Homo sapiens: one gene and its partner. The protein of the gene in region 2 purifies or fractionates together with the protein of the main gene of each other region. This does not show direct contact. Each region holds a gene or a part of one and is shown on either strand. Other genes may lie near its edges. The genes, in order: CTDP1 and STK38.

Region 1 (8,327 bases), on a different chromosome or scaffold from region 2:
CCATTCTTGTGCCTCAGCCTCCCGAGTAGCTGGGACTACAGGCGTGTACCACCACACCCAGTTAATTTTTATATTTTTAGTAGAGACGGGGTTGTGCCATATTGGCCAGGCTGGTCTCGAACTCCTGACCTCAAGTGATCCTCCCGCCTCGGCCTCCCAAAGTGTTGGGATTATAGGCATTGAGCCACCACGCCCGGTGATTTTTAATAATAAAGTATTTTTAAATTAAGTTAGGTACATTGTTCTTTTAGATATAATGCTATTGAATGTTTAATAAGCTGCAGTAGAGTGTCAGCATGGATTATATTCACTGGGAAACCAAAAAATTCATGTGATTCTCAGTATCTCCAGGATAGGCCTGCTGAAGACAGTGGAGTCTAGTTATAATGTGGCTGTTTCTCAGTTGTGTGGTCTGGAAGGTGACAGTGTCCTGATGTAGTGGGGAGGGGGGTCTAAGCATGAACGGTCTGTCCTCTGCCTCCTCAGTAGCAGTAGTGTGCCCCACTTGACATCCAGAGGAGACCCTGAGGCTGGTGCCTGGCCCTACTGCTGGCCCCTCTGAAAGCAATTTCAGGGATCAGAAGTGGTGCTGGCCACAGCTCCCGAAGCCTGGACAGCTGCTGGACTTTTTACTGTTGAGTAATGGGAAAGTTGTTACTAGAACTTCTCACTCCTAAATATTTGACAGAGTAGCTTCTTCATGACGGTCGTGACTAACTTAGAGCTAGAAAAATGTAACTGGGAAAGTTGTTACTAGAACTTCTCACTCCTAAACCTTGAACAGAGTAGCTTCTTCATGAGGGTCGTAACTAACTTAGAACTAGAAAAATGTAACTGAGCTTAAGTCATCTACCTTTTTTTAAAGCCATTAAGAGTAAATATTTTACTGAGAAAATAACAGGATTTAAAGGATCGAAGTTTAGCTTCCTAAGGAAAGCAGACTCATTTGCATGTCGATCATATGTAAGCGAGTCGGTGTTGCTCATTTCACTGTCTACTAAATATGACTTAGAATACTTTCAGCTTTTATGTTGTATATGTAGATGAAAGAAACTGTCTGAAAATCACCCATGCGTTATACCAGGTTACCCGGGAATGTTGATTTCCTTTATTCAGTAGCTCAGGAAAACACTGTCAGCACGTGATGTTGGTGGAGGTCTGTTCCGAGCAGCTGCGGTGGCCTTGCTGTGTAACACGTATCAGCGAGGAAACAAAGGCAGAAGTGACATCAGTGGTTAGCTCATAGTTAGTGTAGGTTGTTACTGTTGGCGTGGTTATCAGGGGTGGTTATGTCCTAGGCGGTCGTTGCAGGTAGGTAGTTACCAGGAGTAGTTAGTGTAGCTATCATCGGTGGTTATGTAGTTATCATAGGTGGTGACTGTTGGCGTGGTTATTGGGGATGGTTATCGTGTAGTTATCACAGGCTGTTACTCTTGGCTGGTTATCGGGGGTGGTTATCCTAGGCGGGTCGTTGCAGGCAGGTAGCTATTGTGAGTAGTTAGTGTAGCTGTCATCGGTGGTTATCATGTAGTTACCGTAGGCTGTTACTGTTAACGTGGTACCCAGGGTGGTTATCTTGAACAGTTGTTGCAGGTAGGTGGTTATCCTAGTTACCACGGGCAGTCAGTATTCACACTCACTGAGGGCATTCCCGCAGCAGAGAAGGCCGCACTCACTCACTCGTACCGCGTGCATGGAAACTACTTACACAGTGGGTTTTAAATGCCACGGGTAGCCCCTTGCACCAGTTAGGGTCACGTCCTTATTTGGAGGGTCAGGCGGACATGCGTCCTCTGTCCCACGTGGAGAGGTGTGTGCACACTCCTATCCCCTGTCCCATGTGGAGGGGCGGGTGCAAACGCATCCTCTGTCCCACGTGGAGTGGTGTGTCCACACGCATGTCCTCTGTCCCATGCCCACGTGGAGGGGCGTGTACACACGCATGTCCTCTGTCCCGTGTGGAGGGGCGTGTACACGCACACGTGTCCTCTGTCCCGTGTGGAGGGGCGTGTACATGCTCACATGTGTCCTCTGTCCCGTGTGGAGGGGCGTGTACATGCAAACGTGTATCCTCTGTCCCATGTGGAGGGATGGGCACATGTGTGTCTTCAGGACGCCTGTCTCAGGCACCCGTGTGTCTTCAGGACGCCTGTCGGGCACACGCGTGTCTTCAGAACGCTTGTCTGGGGCACACGTGTGTTCTCAGGATGCCTGTCTCGGGCACACAGGTTGCGGGGGCGGCCGGGGCTCCTCAGGCCTTTTCTCCCGACTGTTGCTACTATTCTTTTTAGGGCATCTTTCACTTCCAGCTGGGCCGGGGTGAGCCCATGCTGCACACGCGCCTGCGTCCACACTGCAAGGACTTCCTGGAGAAGATCGCCAAGCTGTACGAGCTGCACGTCTTCACCTTCGGCAGCCGGCTGTACGCACACACCATCGCAGGTCAGTCAAGCCGCAGCCGAAGAGGCCGTGTGAACAGTGGGTTTCTTTCCTGTTTTCGGTGATGGTTTCTTAAAGATGAAGAAAGAAAAGAAGCTCTCCTGCAACTCAGTTGTAGTCTTAGGGTTGGCCGTTGTGCAGGGGGTTGTGAGAGGTAAGGGAATTCTGCCACCAGGGCTGTTGGGTGGGGCCGCGGCTGCTCTGGCCGGGTGCGGTACTGGGTGGGCCGCTTTGGGAGTTTGTCAGGACCACATGGGCACGTGGAAACTTCTGCGAGCGTCCTCCGACAGATACCTTCTTAAATCAGTTCACAGGGACTTTGGGCCGGGCTGCTTGTGTGTGCTCTTGCTGGGTGCTGTCACTGCACACAGCATGATTGTCCCCTGCCTACACATGGGTACCCTTAGGGTTTAGCGTTTGCTTCTGTCTCCCTGGGTGATAGCGTGAATGCCAGGCTACGGTGCCCTCTGGGAGGCAGCACCAGCAGGACGAATCGAGGGGACAGTGCCACGGGACGGTGACTGTCCCATGTGGATGCAGTGAGGGGACGCCACAGGATGGTGACCGTCTGTCCTTCATGGACAAAGCGAGGGGACAAAGTGGGACAGCGACCGTCTGTTCCACGTGGACGAAGCAACGTCTGTCCCACGTGGACGAAGCAAGGGGACAGTGCGGGACGGCGACCGTCTGTCCCACGTGGACAAAGCGAGGGGGCTGCCACGGGACGGCGACCGTCTGTCCCACATGGATGTAGGCGCCGAGTGGCAGTGTAGGCAAGCTCCTCCGTACTGGCTCCAGAGGTTGTTAGACTGAGCATTTTAAAATTCAAAGGTCTTTCTAGATTGGTCTTAGTCTTTTGTTGTTGTTGGGGAAATGAATTTTGAATCCTCCTTTAATATTTAGTGCCTTTATAGGAAATTGTGATCATGACCTTTAATTCCTCTTGTAATTGAAATTTGAAATATTCACCTGTAACATTATGGCTGCTGCTGCATAGCTGCCTGAGACAGATGATGTGAAGACGAGTAATTATGCACAAGGGTGATATTGCTCACTTCCTCGGGCCAGTGAAGAAATAATGCCTGCTATGATCTGAGGGTTTTACAGCCCCCAAGTCCATGTGTTAAAACCCAGTCCCAGGGCGAGGGTGTTAGGAGGGGCGTGGGAGGTGGTGAGGTCCTGTGGACTCCATCCTCGTGAATGGAATCAGGGCCCTTACCCAGGTGGGCCCTGGGAGCTGCGGGAAATGCAGCAAGCCGGCGCCCACTGACCTGCAGCCAAGTTGCTGGCGCCGTGGTCGGACGCCGGCCTCCAGAACTGTGAGGAAGGGACGTGTGTTCCTGAGTCACCCACACTATGGAGTTTCTTTAGAGCAGCCCAGGCCGACTAAGCTGCCCACTGTGTGGAAATAGACCCCCAAATCCCCATGTGTTCCAGCCCCAGATTGTGCCGTTGCAGCCAGTGCCAGGCACCTCCCAGAGGACAACCCATAAGTCACACAAACCGCAGGGACAGTGACGCCCACTCAAACCAGACAACTGAGCGGGGCATCACTCTCACAATAACAAATGTCAGGGAAAGACTAAAAACCAGAAAATTATTCCTCACGCTCATCATATCCATGGCTGTCCCCTATTCTCTGGTTTTTTTTTTGTATGTATAATTTTGCCTAGTTTGTCTTAATATATGTACAAGTTTACATACCGTTCTTTTCACATAAGATTTCATCACTAAGAATTTATCCATCACGTTGTTATAAATCTTCATCATTTTATGTAAGATTTTTTTCCCTCCTCTGTGGACTGGATCCTCTGGGTGAGTTCCTAAAACCAGGATTGTTCGGTGAGGGAGTGGTTCCTGACCCCCAGGACTGTGAGGACTGCACGCCGCATGGCCTGCTCCCTGGGAGGGTGACGGGTTTGCCTCCCGCCTCCCACACAAGGCGCACACCAGCGGGCACAGCCCGGTGACCTGCACGTCTGAGTCCAGGATGCCAGTGATGTTTCTTCTCCTCCTGTCCCGTCTTCCATACGTTGATCTGGTGCCCGTGCAAGTGTTTCTCATTTCGGATTTCCTTCTCCAGGTCTCTCTCTGAAGCTGGGCTTCTTTAGGTTCGCTGTTTCACACGTCTTGCTTATCCTTTCCTGAGGTGCATCGATGTTTGCTGGTCAGAGCACACAAGCCCCAGTGAGGAGGAGCATGTGGAAGGCTCGGATCTGTTTAAATGCTTGGCTGGAGGGGTTTGGGCTAAAAGCAGAGGGTCCCAGGTTTTAGCCGGGCTACACCCTTGCCACCCGTCACACCAGCAGGCAGGGTATGGGTCACCACAGTCTGATTCCACGTTCATGAGGCCTCGTGTGGTGAGAGATGAAGCAGGTGACGAGAACGCCATGTTTCTTTATCAGCCTGAAAGCTGGAGGGAGCCTGGGAGCTGCTCGCAGATTCAGCAGAGCATCCATGCAGACATCCGCAGGCCTCTGAGCCGCTTAGACAGCAGAGCAGGGAGCCTGCTGGTGGGCGCTTGGCTGCGGAGAGCCTCGAGCGCGGGTCCTCCTGCAGTGAGACCAGCTAGGTTTGTTGAGCGTCACCGGGCCGTCTGGTGCCTTCTCCGTTTCAAGCTCTGCTTTCTATGCTAAAGTTCCAGCATTCCAACGTGTCCAAGGGATGTCGGCCAAAACCAGACGAAGACATCACAAGAAAACTGCAGACCAGTATCCCTTTGAACATGGATGCAGAAATTCTCAACAGAACATGGGCCCTCGAGCCCAGCAACGCAGGAGGAAGACTGTGTCCAGGCTGTGGTTCAGGAAGGCCGAGCTTTGCTTCATTGTGGCTGGCGGGATCTGTAGAGATGACCTGGGTCAGCTTTTCTACAAGTGAGAAAGTGAGGTCCGGACTGAAGCCTGAGGTGGTCGCCGAGCATCTGCTTTTGATGCTTTTCATTTTGAAAGTGACCGTGTTGATAGCATGCGTGCTTTCAGTATGACTAGGACAGAGATGTTAAGAGTTTGCGATGCGTGTCTTTTATCTGATAGTAGAGACGCTAATAATTCTATTAACAGACTTTAGATCTAGCGACTTCATGGCCTCAGTGATCATCTGGAATTTACGCATAGTGAGAAACAATCGCATTTATTTCTCCTTTAAGCCCAAGTATCTTTTGGTTAATGAAATACTAACAAACCAGTGGTATCAGGGAACGGAAAGCTCCTGGCAGTACTGCATTTGAAACGTCTGGAGGTGGTGATGCTTCAGCCAGGAAGCAGGTTCATCTTCCCAGAAGATCTTACGGATCCCACAGTGCATTGTGCATAGTGCCGTGGGGCTGCAGGGTAACTGAGGTGGTGCACAGAGCAGCTCTTCTGTTTTAATTGTAATGTGTATGTTTTAACCTGTATCAAAAACAGCAAATGTGTTTCTCGCATTTGTGATCTCAGAGGTGGTGGTGCAGAGGTTGAGCCCAGTAGGGATGGGTGCAGGGAGTAGTTGATTAAAAGCCAGCGTGAAAACAATAGTGATTATGTGGAGTGCAGTCAGGGCACGTTCAGATCCGGAAGTGGACCCCGTGTGCCACGTGGGGACGTGGAGCCAGGCGTTCCGGGGTGCATTCGGATCCGGAAGTGGACCCCGTGTGCCATGCAGAGGCGTGGAGCCAGGCGTTCCAGTGAGACTTAAGTCTTGAGAGAATGTGGGCTGCGTGGTTGGACTTTGGGTTCACAGTGCTTTTGAGATGTCTCATCTACCTCCTTTGCTTCATGCATAACTAACGGTTATGCAGGGGACCTGCGTGCCATGACAAGACCACAGTCCCAGCTCCCGACTCTGGACCGGCTCACTCTTGTGCAATCCAGTCCCCGTTTTGTTCCACGGCACCTGCACGTGTCAGGCCAGATAGAGGTTGTGTGTTAATGTGTTCAATTTTCTTACAATTTCAGCCTCTTGGGAGAGTAATAATTATGTTGTATTCATTCCCGCACCTTATATTCCTAGCAAAATTCCAAGTAATGTTAAACTCAGTAAATGTTAAATGATCGAATACCCTTAAACACGTTATGTGGGTGCCATGGAATACCTATCTCTTGAGGTATGTGCAGATTTATGGCTTCAGCCACTTGTATGATGAGTAGCTGAAACATTTCTTTTTGAGGCTTCATAATTAACCGTAGCTTTTTCTCTCCAGAATGTTTTAAATGGCTGGTGAAATTAAATTGACATTGAACTTGATGCCTCCAACATATTTTACCAATGGAATAAATTACCTGAAAGGTTGTTTTGTTTTTGTTTAGTACCCCTACTTCTACAAACTGAAATATGTTTCCTATATACTCTGTGGTTCTTGTAAACTAACAAGAGATAACTTATTTTTAAATTATCTTTATTTAAAAATATGAGCACTTTACTGTAAATTGAAGACTTTGCAAACTTAGGAAGATAACACAGTAGGCTTAAAGTTCAGAAGATAAATTTATAGATCAAGAAACCCAGAGCAGAGGTGATCCCAAGAAACCTCTGCCTGATTTGTTGATTTTCACAGTGGTGCTTCCTGAAGTGTAGAAGGGATGTTTGCAGATAGCTTGGTTTTACTATCTTTAAGGAGTCGAAGCTGAGCATCAAGCATGTGAAGCTCTTTAGAAAATTACTGTTAAAAAGTTAAACTAGACTTGTAATTAACGGATGTCATGTGAAGTGCAAGTGTCAAATGTAGCCTAAGCGGATTCTTCGCTGTGGAAGCACCTTCTGCACTAGCTGGTCAAGGTGGTGTCCCGGATGTCCTTCCTTCCCAGTCTCCTCTGTCAGGCAGGCTTCCTCGATGTTGCCTAAATTACCATTATTAAAACGTGTATAATAGTTAGAAATAACCGGCCTTTCTGTGTATTTCTACAACACAGAGTGTGAGTTTGTATAATTCTACTAAAGTAACTTGGGAGAAGCAAACTTCCTTGATAACCTTTCCTCCACTAACCATTACAGATGAGAGCAGTGGGCCACCCGCCTGGGGTTAGGAAAGATCATATCCGAGGTGACGCAGAGTAATTTCAGCTTAGTGTCCAGACTCCATCACGTGAAGAACCACATGCAGAGTGTTTTGAGATCAAATGATGACTTACCTGTTTTACTTATGCAAGTGCCTTCCATAATTTTCATATCCATCTGGTTTAGATAGGCACTTCAGTAAGATATTACAAATTTTTCATGTTAGTAGAATTATAAACACTTATCAACATGGTTTGTGTTTGAGAAATAAGTTCACCATAAGAGAAAAGAAGCCCCACACGAGCCACGTCTTACCTCAAAAGGGATGAAGTGTTTGGTGCCAGTTCATCATGTTGTGTGTCTGCCACTTTAAAAAAAACATTCAAGGCTTCACCATGTGCCGTGTGACCGAAACGTGTCTCAGGTATGTAATCTTTGTCCTGTTTTCTTTTCCAAGGCTTTTTAGACCCCGAGAAGAAGCTTTTTTCTCACCGAATATTATCAAGGGATGAATGTATTGACCCATTTTCTAAAACGGGAAACCTTAGGTATGTACCCAGCCGCGCTCCTCACAAAGACCTCGCTGTTCATTTCCCATTTCAAAAATCGCATCTTGAAATTTAGAGCAGTATTTCTTTTTTTCTTTTTTTTTGAGACGGAGTCTTGCTGTTGCCCAGGCTAGAGTGCAGTGGCGCGATCTCGGCTCACTGCAAGCTCTGCTTCCAGAGTTCACGCCATTCTCCTGCCTCAGCCTCCTGAGTAGCTAGGACTACAGGCACCCACCACCTCGCCCGGCAATTTTTTTTTTTTTTTTTTTTTTTTTTTTTTTTGTATTTTTAGTACAGACGGTGGTTTCACTGTGTTAGCCAGGATGGCCTCGATCTCCTGACCTCGTGATCTTCCCGCCTCAGCCT
Region 2 (8,327 bases):
CAGAACCATAGCCTTTCAGAGAAAGGAAGTGACAGCAAACTTACCTGTTTAAAAAAAAAAGGAAAATCATGACAAGGCAGGTCACAGCTCGCCCACTGGGATGACCACAGGGGTGCAGGTGTTAAAGCAGAGGCTGCTCAGATCAGTAAACGTGCATAGTTCATGCCAATGCCCCCCCAATACCTTGCTGTCCAAAAGAAGGTTGTCTGGTTTGATGTCTCTGTGGATGAATCCAAGTTGGTGAATAGAGTCTATGGCTAATACTGTTTCTGCTATATAAAACTGAGTCTCCTCTTCTGTCAGAGTGTCTTTTTTCATCAACAAGGTCATCATGTCCCCTGGAAACAAGAAGATACAAAGCCACCACACACACACACACACACACACACACACACACACACAACATACGAGTGAGTACCAATTTTCAGATATGTCTTCCCTATCTGCCAAAATAAGGCGGCTAAACAGACCTCTTCTGTGTGCCAGAGATAGACCCACATGGCCAACATGGGAAGAAATGGGATTTTCACACCTAAGCTAGCTAAGGTTGACCACTAAGCTGTGATTTCTATTTTACTTTTGAGAGAAAAAGAAAATTTCTCCCACACTTTAAAAAACAACTGTATTTGCTTAGGATAATTTTTTGGACTCGGGGTAAAATGCTACTTTACTTTTCACTTTGCCTGAACAAGTATCTGCAAGCTTTTCTGCATCTGTAACTAAATGGCACTTCCACATACAATCTATGTATTGTTATAGAGAGGCTGAAATGCCAAATAAAAATGTAAACACTCGGGCAGGCTGAAAACAAGCTTTCCAACTTCTATTCACAGAACACAAACAAATAAAAAGGAAGGACTTGGGTAGCAAAGCATTAGTCAACAAAAGCTAAAAATGAACTGAAAATGCTATACACTAGAATGTGCAATAACTGCCTCCTGGAAGAGTACAATGAACACCTCTCAAGGTCAGTGCTTTTTTTTCTCTAGTGCGTTATTATAGGTATTTAAATGGACACTAGTACCCTTTATGTAACTTTTAAAACACAGTATCAGTATTCTAGCAGTTAAAAGGTAACCTCGTTAGTTTTCTGCAAAGTCAAAATTTCATCATTTCTAATACCAGCAACATAAAATGGCAGAAAAAGATTCAGGTCCTAACTCAACAGTGAGAAATGCAAAGAAAATATGTATAAGGAGTTTAAAACTAAGAGAAACAGTAAAGATTCAGTTTAGACCTCACATAAAGTCACTTATGTTAGAAAACAAGGAAAAGAGAAAGAAACCTCTGATTTTAACAGAGCATCATGCTGCTTTTTCAGTTTCATTTCATTTAGAACATTATGTTTTGTATTATTGGAGAAAAGTAGCTATTTTTCCCTCAGGCAAAAATTAAACCATTTATTAAAGTGCTCTTTTTCAGTCCAATACTTAAAAAATATGATTTCCTAATCACTCCTGGCAGCCCTTCAATCTGGAGACCCACCAGACACATGGAGACAGTGCACTTGGGCTGCTACCCCAGTAAGGTAGCTATACGGCCTTAGTTCTGTGGCTCAGGAGAGCAGTCAATGGGGCCTCGCCTGTGCAAGTTTGCCCAGATGATTGGAGAGCTCAGGCCAGATGCTCTATGGCTCTGCAGGCCAGCTCCACCAAGTGCAAAGGGCAGGGTCCAGGAGACATGAGAAGCTACGGAAGATGGTACAGGTTGAGGCTTGAGGACACGTTAGGAGCTGGTAACCAAGTTGGCTCTTACTCTTATTTAAGAACTAGCATCTAAATGTTAAAAAAGTTTCTCCTCATTCTACCAGACTCTTTTCTAACATTAATCAACTGTTTATTTTTTATTAAATGTGTTTCTTTATTAAAAAGTATTGATGACCCTAAATCTAAGGGTTGTCACAAAATCAAAATATTATGCCACAATTATAGGAACAAAAAAGAAAAAAGTTCTCTCTCTTTTTTTTTCCCACCAGAGTTTGCTCAGAGTTCATCTGCTCACTGACAAACAGACTGCTTTCCTCAGAACAGATGGCATGTTCTGTTCTGGGTTTACTTTGGAGCTGTCTTAGGAGATGCTCATGCTGAGTTACATAAAACTTAAAATTTCAGAAATGAGAAATTTTTTCTGGCTACTAATATGGGTAACAAAAAATTCACTCCTTATTAATATGTTATACAAAAAGAAACAAAAATTTGGAGCAAAGGATGTTATAGCTTCAATGTTGTCACTTGGGTTATTGATCATATATGATTCCCATTGACAGGAGAGCAGGCAGAGCACCCTAATTTATTCCTATATATTTTAAAAAGAAGAAGAAAAGAAAGAAATGTCCATCTGAAATCATGTAAATGAATTAACAGGTTACTTTTATGGTACTAAGATTGTAGAAAGGCACCCCAGCACAAGACAGGTTACTGACTTCCTTTATAGACCTAAAAAAGGATATAGAAAGCAACTTTGTGAGCACATTTAAAAGTAGAAAGGAGGGTTAATCGTGATGTGAGAGAAAGAAACCACAGAACAAAAAGAAAAAATGACCTTTCATCGTCAAGTAATTACCTCCAGGCAGGAACTCCATGATTAGGTAGAGGTTTAGCTTATCCTGAAAACTATAGAACATTTTCACAACCCACAAACTGTCTGCCTCCACTAGAATGTCACGCTCCGCACGAATGTGGCCAACCTGGAGGTATATGCATTTGATTAATGACAAAGCTTGCTCTGCTTTATTAGATTGTATATTTGCTTAAACAATTTAAATACTGTGCTTAAATACTGTTTTGAGTATTTAATCGTGATGATATAAAAGATCCAATTTCTGCTTAGGCAAACCTACTAACTCAAAATTGACAACATTTGACTTCAAGGTATTCAGTGATGAAAACTTGAGTGATGAAAGGCTTTAAAAAATGGCAAAATGAATGGCTTTAATGCAAATAGCAACTTTAACACTGCTATAAACTGAATCTCTGATTAGTTAAAATTACTACTCTTTTGCATAGAGTTTTGTCTAATAATCTTTTATGATAAAAATAAGTCCCCAAAGTGAGACTCTCTTCCAAGTTCTTCCTCGGGTCTGCACTAGTATCTGCAACAACAGTGAGCTCACTGACAAATTCTAGAATGCTATGATACCACAGCATTTAGTTCACTGCTATGTGCTCAATCAATCCTTACTGAATTGAAATACAAGAACACCTATGAAAAGTTGTAGATTCAAATTAATGACATTTCCAATTTTATACTTTTACTGAAATACCTATAAAGGACCAAGTTGTAGAAAGTTTCAGAGAACCGGAATTATTTTGTTAAAGCAATGCTTTATTATCAAATTTACCTTATTTACTTTAAATGCAGAACAGTAATCAAACATCACTGCATATTATCAAATCCCCCCCACACACACTTTTTTTAAAACAAGATGGGGTCTCGCTCTGTCACTCCGGCTAGAGTGCAGTGGCGTGATCATAGCTCACTGAAGCCTCAAACTCCTGGTCTAAAGTGATCCTCCTGCCTCAGCCTCCTAAGTAGCTAGGATTATAGGTGTGTGCCACCATGCCTGGCCCCTCCCCTCTTTTTTAAGTGTCACAAGGTCTAAATTGGGTTGATTCAGATCTAAATTTATTAAGACTCAGTCCAATCCCTGAATAGTGGTTTTGGTCTTAACATATGCTACAGGTCTTGACTTTTTACAACATGTTCTGAAGTAAAACATGTACCAAGGTTCACAAATTGGCAAATTTAGTCCATGGCTGTTGGCAAATTTAGTCCATGGCTGTTGTTTGGTTTAATACAATGTTTGATATGATGCTTGTTTTATTGACATGTCTTTAGGGAGACAAGGCACTCTTCCATTACTCTTCCATTTCAACACCCTCTCCCCTGGTCTTATATCTAACTTGCTTCAGGCTTCTATGCTAACTCTTGGAGGCCCAGAGGCATTTGACTTTATGTATTTGAGTTTTCAGTATCTACTAAAATCATTCTTTGGGGAATTTTTTTAAAAGCTGCAACTGTACAGAAAACCTACATCTTTACATCTGTACTTATGGTATTGGGGTGGGAAAAAATGGACAATAAGGGTGAAAAGAAACAGTGCTATGAAACACAATGAAACCAAGTAAAGCATCTGCCTTTACTTGACCTTAATACAGAAGCAAAGCTTTTGGGAAACAGTAACATTGCTTGCTGCCCCACAGCCATGGCTAGGACCCAGTCACTACAAGACATTAATACAGTAGAAGGCAGCCTTCATCTGCCTGTCTCCCCTGGCTCCCATTAAGCTCCCTACCTACTGCAGGGAGCCAGAGAAAAGGAGAGGCACTACAATTACCACTTGTCACTCACCCTGGAGGACACAATGGTGCCCATAACATTTCCTGTTTGTCAAGGGGAAAGCTACCATGAGCACACCTTGCCTTTCTCTTGAGGCTGAAACAGTAGCAAGAAACCTCATGGTTTGAAAGTGGAGTTGGCTGAATATAGATTAAGGGAGGGAAGAGTCTGAGGTGCAATTTATACAAAAAGGTTCTCTTTCCCCTATTCCATAAATATTTAATAAGGTGGGGGGTGCTAGTTGCTATCCTGTGCCCTAAGAAAGCAGAAATAAAAGCCAGTTTTTTGTCCCATCAATAACTGTATACTGGCATCACAACTGAAGGTTTTCCTTTTGCACTGGAAGAGAAACATCAGAAGCTAGTTAGATGTCATGTCTTACCCTTTAAATTTTTCCAGGTAGCAAAAATTTCCACCACGTGGAGCAGAAAAATAACCTGAACTCTCAGTGGGTAGCTTTAATTCCTACCCAGTTTATTTAGTAAAAGCAAACAAAAAAACAATTTTGCCTCTGTACCTCTACTTTGTCAGCCCTACCCCAAAATGGTGATGAATTTGCACTGGTCTACTTCCATCTTTTATCTAGCACAAAACCAATGCATGCTTCTTCAAGATGGCTAAGCCAGGTAGAGTCTGTGGCCAGAGACTTTAACTGGCTCATAATGAGATCTGTTAAGTTGAGGAGTTGAGTTCTCAGCTAAGGTGAGCTAAACAATTTAAGTTAATGTACCATTTAATCCATAAGTTAATGCATCATTTAAAATGTTAATTCTAATAGTTTCTTTACTTTCATTTAGGAAAGTTTTAGAAAGTGATTTTGAAGGCACAATATTTGCGAAAAGGCTTTTTACACATTATGTCTGGATCATCCTCTGTTAGAAACCATGCGGGGCACCTGGTATACATAAAATTACTAACTGAAAATCATATGTACTTTGTTTTGCAGTATTACTCTGACAGTTAATATTTAATAAAAAGAGGTCTTAAGCCTTGGTTAAAACTGTAGGAAACATACCTTGCAAAAACAAAACTTACTCATGAGATGCAAACATACTAATTAATGCAGAAGCTTTATATTTTCCTTCTCAAGATTAACTGAAACTTTTTCAGTGCCTACACACCCATACCACACACTAATTTGTAGATAGTATGTAAGTAGGCCGGCCTACTATGAATTTTGAAAAAGGTTGGCGTTAGCATAAACTATAGTGTCTCAAGACTTACCGCCCAGGTATTTGATACTCCCAACTGAAATTCCTGGGAGTCTAAAGCTTCTCGGTAACACATGAAAATTTGAGAGAAAATAAAAATTCCAAATTTTGGGGTGGCATTTAAATGAAGACAGGGAAGACCAGTGATTATATCTCCTCTCAAGAGGTAGAAAGGATTGGATGTGGGGCCAATCTCCATCCCCCCTCTTTGGCCCTAAATTAGGAGTTCTCCTTGTCACAGGGTCTCCATGTTCCTATAACATCAAATCTTTTACAGGACATTTGCGGTCATCACCCACTGCAATCTTTTCTTAAGCAACCAGCTACATTAAACTAGATTTATAGAAAGTCTATTCTTGCTTTTTAAAATATACTTTCCAATATTTAAAACCTTATTTATTTTGCATAAGGCACTTTATAAATTGATTTGCAAACCAGGTTTTGGTTTTAGAAAGTATCCTTTATCATTAAAGGAGAATTTGCATTGTTCTGTCATTTGCATTGTATTTTTCAAATTCATTCAGAAATTAGAAGGCTGGTCTTTTTCAGGTACCGATGAGCTACCTAGAAGACTCAACTTTGGTTTAGGTAAACAGAATGAAGCATATAAAGACACATTTTAGATTATAAATTCCAAATTCTAATTCCTAGTCCTTAGTTATGAGATATATATACAATTTCTATTTCTCAGCATTTGGTAAGAAACACACTACCACACCACGTACGACCTCAAAAAAAAAAGGCTCTCACAATAAGGACATCTTGTGATCAATTGGAAGACACAAGTAAGAGCTGCTTTTGGAACAGATTTTCAATTTTTAAAAGATTGCATATAACCTACAGGCATTATTTGTGATTTTAAATATGAACTGCTTCTTTGTAGGGGGAAAAAGGTAGTATTATATATATAGTCATACATGACAGAGCTAAAGAAAACTGTAATAAAAATATATATTTCAATTAAACAAAAAGAAAAGTTTTAGGAGACAAAAATTAATAAGCTAAAAGCACTGCTACAACTGTGCTTTACCTGCTCTTTTTCAAGCATATCTGCTTTACGGAGTATTTTCATTGCATACACATGTCCCGTATCTTTCTTCTGAACAAGCCGTACCTAAAAAGTTATAAAAGAAATGCCAAGTCAAAAACTCGTACTACCAACCTAATGCTTTCATGTGTTATAGGATGCAATAATTAACTGAAAAAGTATTACAATTTTAACATGAGCAACTAGTAATAACAAAGCAGAAGAAAATGCTTTTCAGTGTTCCAAAATGAATACATTACACACAGTAAAGTCGATGCTGGAAACATCCTCAAATACCTCTACATCTGAACAGCTTTGGTTCCTTAGTTGAACAAGCCAATCTAATTTAAAACCTTCAATTTCAAATTTAAGGACTCGTTACACCTCTGACACATGTCATCCAGTCAGCTCAGAAAATCTAAGTAAATGATTACAATGATGTTTAATTAAAACAAAAGTAGCTGTGCATGGTGGTGTATACCTGTAGTCCCAGCTATTTGGGAGGTTGAGGTAGGAGGATCGCTTGAGCTCAGGAGTTATGAGCTATGGTGCATTATGCTGATCAGGTGTCTGAACTAAGTTCAGCATAATATGGTGACCTCCCAGGAGCAGGGTGGCAGAGGGGGGGCCCACCAGGTTGCCTAAGGAAGGGCAAACAGGCCCAGTTCAGAAATGGAGCAGGTCAAAACTCCCATGCCAATCAGTAGTGAGATCGTGCCTGTAAACAGCCACTGCACTCCAGCCTGGGCAACACAGTGAAACCTTGTCACTTAATCATAATAATAATAACAAAGTAAAACTTCATGCTTAGGAAAAACGTCTGGAAAGAAAAACAAAAAATTCAGGCCAGGCGCGGTAGCTCACACCTATAATCTCAGCACTTTGGAAGGCCGAAGCAGGTGGATCACCTGAGGTCCAGGAGTTCGAGACCAGCCTGGCCAACCTGGTGAAACCCCGTCTACTAAAAATACGAAAATTAGCTGGGTGTGGTGGCAGGTGCCTGTAATCCCAGTTATTCGGGAGGCTAAGGCAGTAGAATCACTTGAACCCGAGAGGCGGAGGTTGCAGTGAGCCAAGATCAAGCCATTGCACTCCAGCCTGGGCAACAGAGCAAGACTCTGTCTCAAAAAAAAAAAAAAAAAAAAAAAGAAGAAGAAGAAAATTCAAAATGTGTAATTAGGGAAATTGTGTTTTATGTAGTTTTCCTTCTCTTTTATGTTTTCCAATGTTCTTAAAGAAAACAGATAATTTTATGAAGAAAATTTACAACCAAAAGAAAAATTTCACTGCAAGTTCCTGCATGTCCTCCCCTCTTCTCCCAAAATAAGTAGGTTTTCTTCTCCCTGAACCTTTCTTCATGTTTTTCCTAATTGAGTACCACAACCCTTCCTTGCCAAACAGAAAGCTCTTTCAGAGGTGGTACTATACTTTTCCCTCTTTCAAGAAGCCAATAGGAATTCTGAACACTGAGGGATCAATCTATCACCTGTGCCTCTGAATACTATTCACATTTCCCCGGGGTACCAGGTTTTTTGTTTTTTTTTTTTTTTGAGATGGAGTCTTGCTCTGTCACCCAGGCTGGAGTGCAATGGTGCAATCTCGGCTCACTGCAACCTCTGCCTCCTGGGTTCAAGCAATTCTCCTGCCTCAGCCTCCTGAGTAGCTGGGATTACAGGCACGTGCCACCACACCCGGCTAATTTTTCTATTTTTAGTAGAGACAAGGTTTCACCATGTTGTCAGGCTGGTCTC

The links.
Region 1: the proteins of STK38 (region 2) and CTDP1 purify together in Homo sapiens (affinity purification with western blotting; 2 studies listed by BioGRID and IntAct, with this or other methods). This does not show direct contact.

What each region holds. Positions count from the first base shown.
Region 1 is NC_000018.10:79,702,476-79,710,802, forward strand, and holds part of CTDP1 (RNA polymerase II subunit A C-terminal domain phosphatase), read left to right. Parts: intron 1-2,291; coding exon 2,292-2,442; intron 2,443-7,870; coding exon 7,871-7,961; intron 7,962-8,327. UniProt on the Homo sapiens protein: Processively dephosphorylates 'Ser-2' and 'Ser-5' of the heptad repeats YSPTSPS in the C-terminal domain of the largest RNA polymerase II subunit. This promotes the activity of RNA polymerase II.
Region 2 is NC_000006.12:36,515,155-36,523,481, forward strand, and holds part of STK38 (serine/threonine-protein kinase 38), read right to left. Parts: intron 6,664-8,327; coding exon 6,580-6,663; intron 2,687-6,579; coding exon 2,563-2,686; intron 339-2,562; coding exon 184-338; intron 1-183. UniProt on the Homo sapiens protein: Serine/threonine-protein kinase that acts as a negative regulator of MAP3K1/2 signaling. Converts MAP3K2 from its phosphorylated form to its non-phosphorylated form and inhibits autophosphorylation of MAP3K2.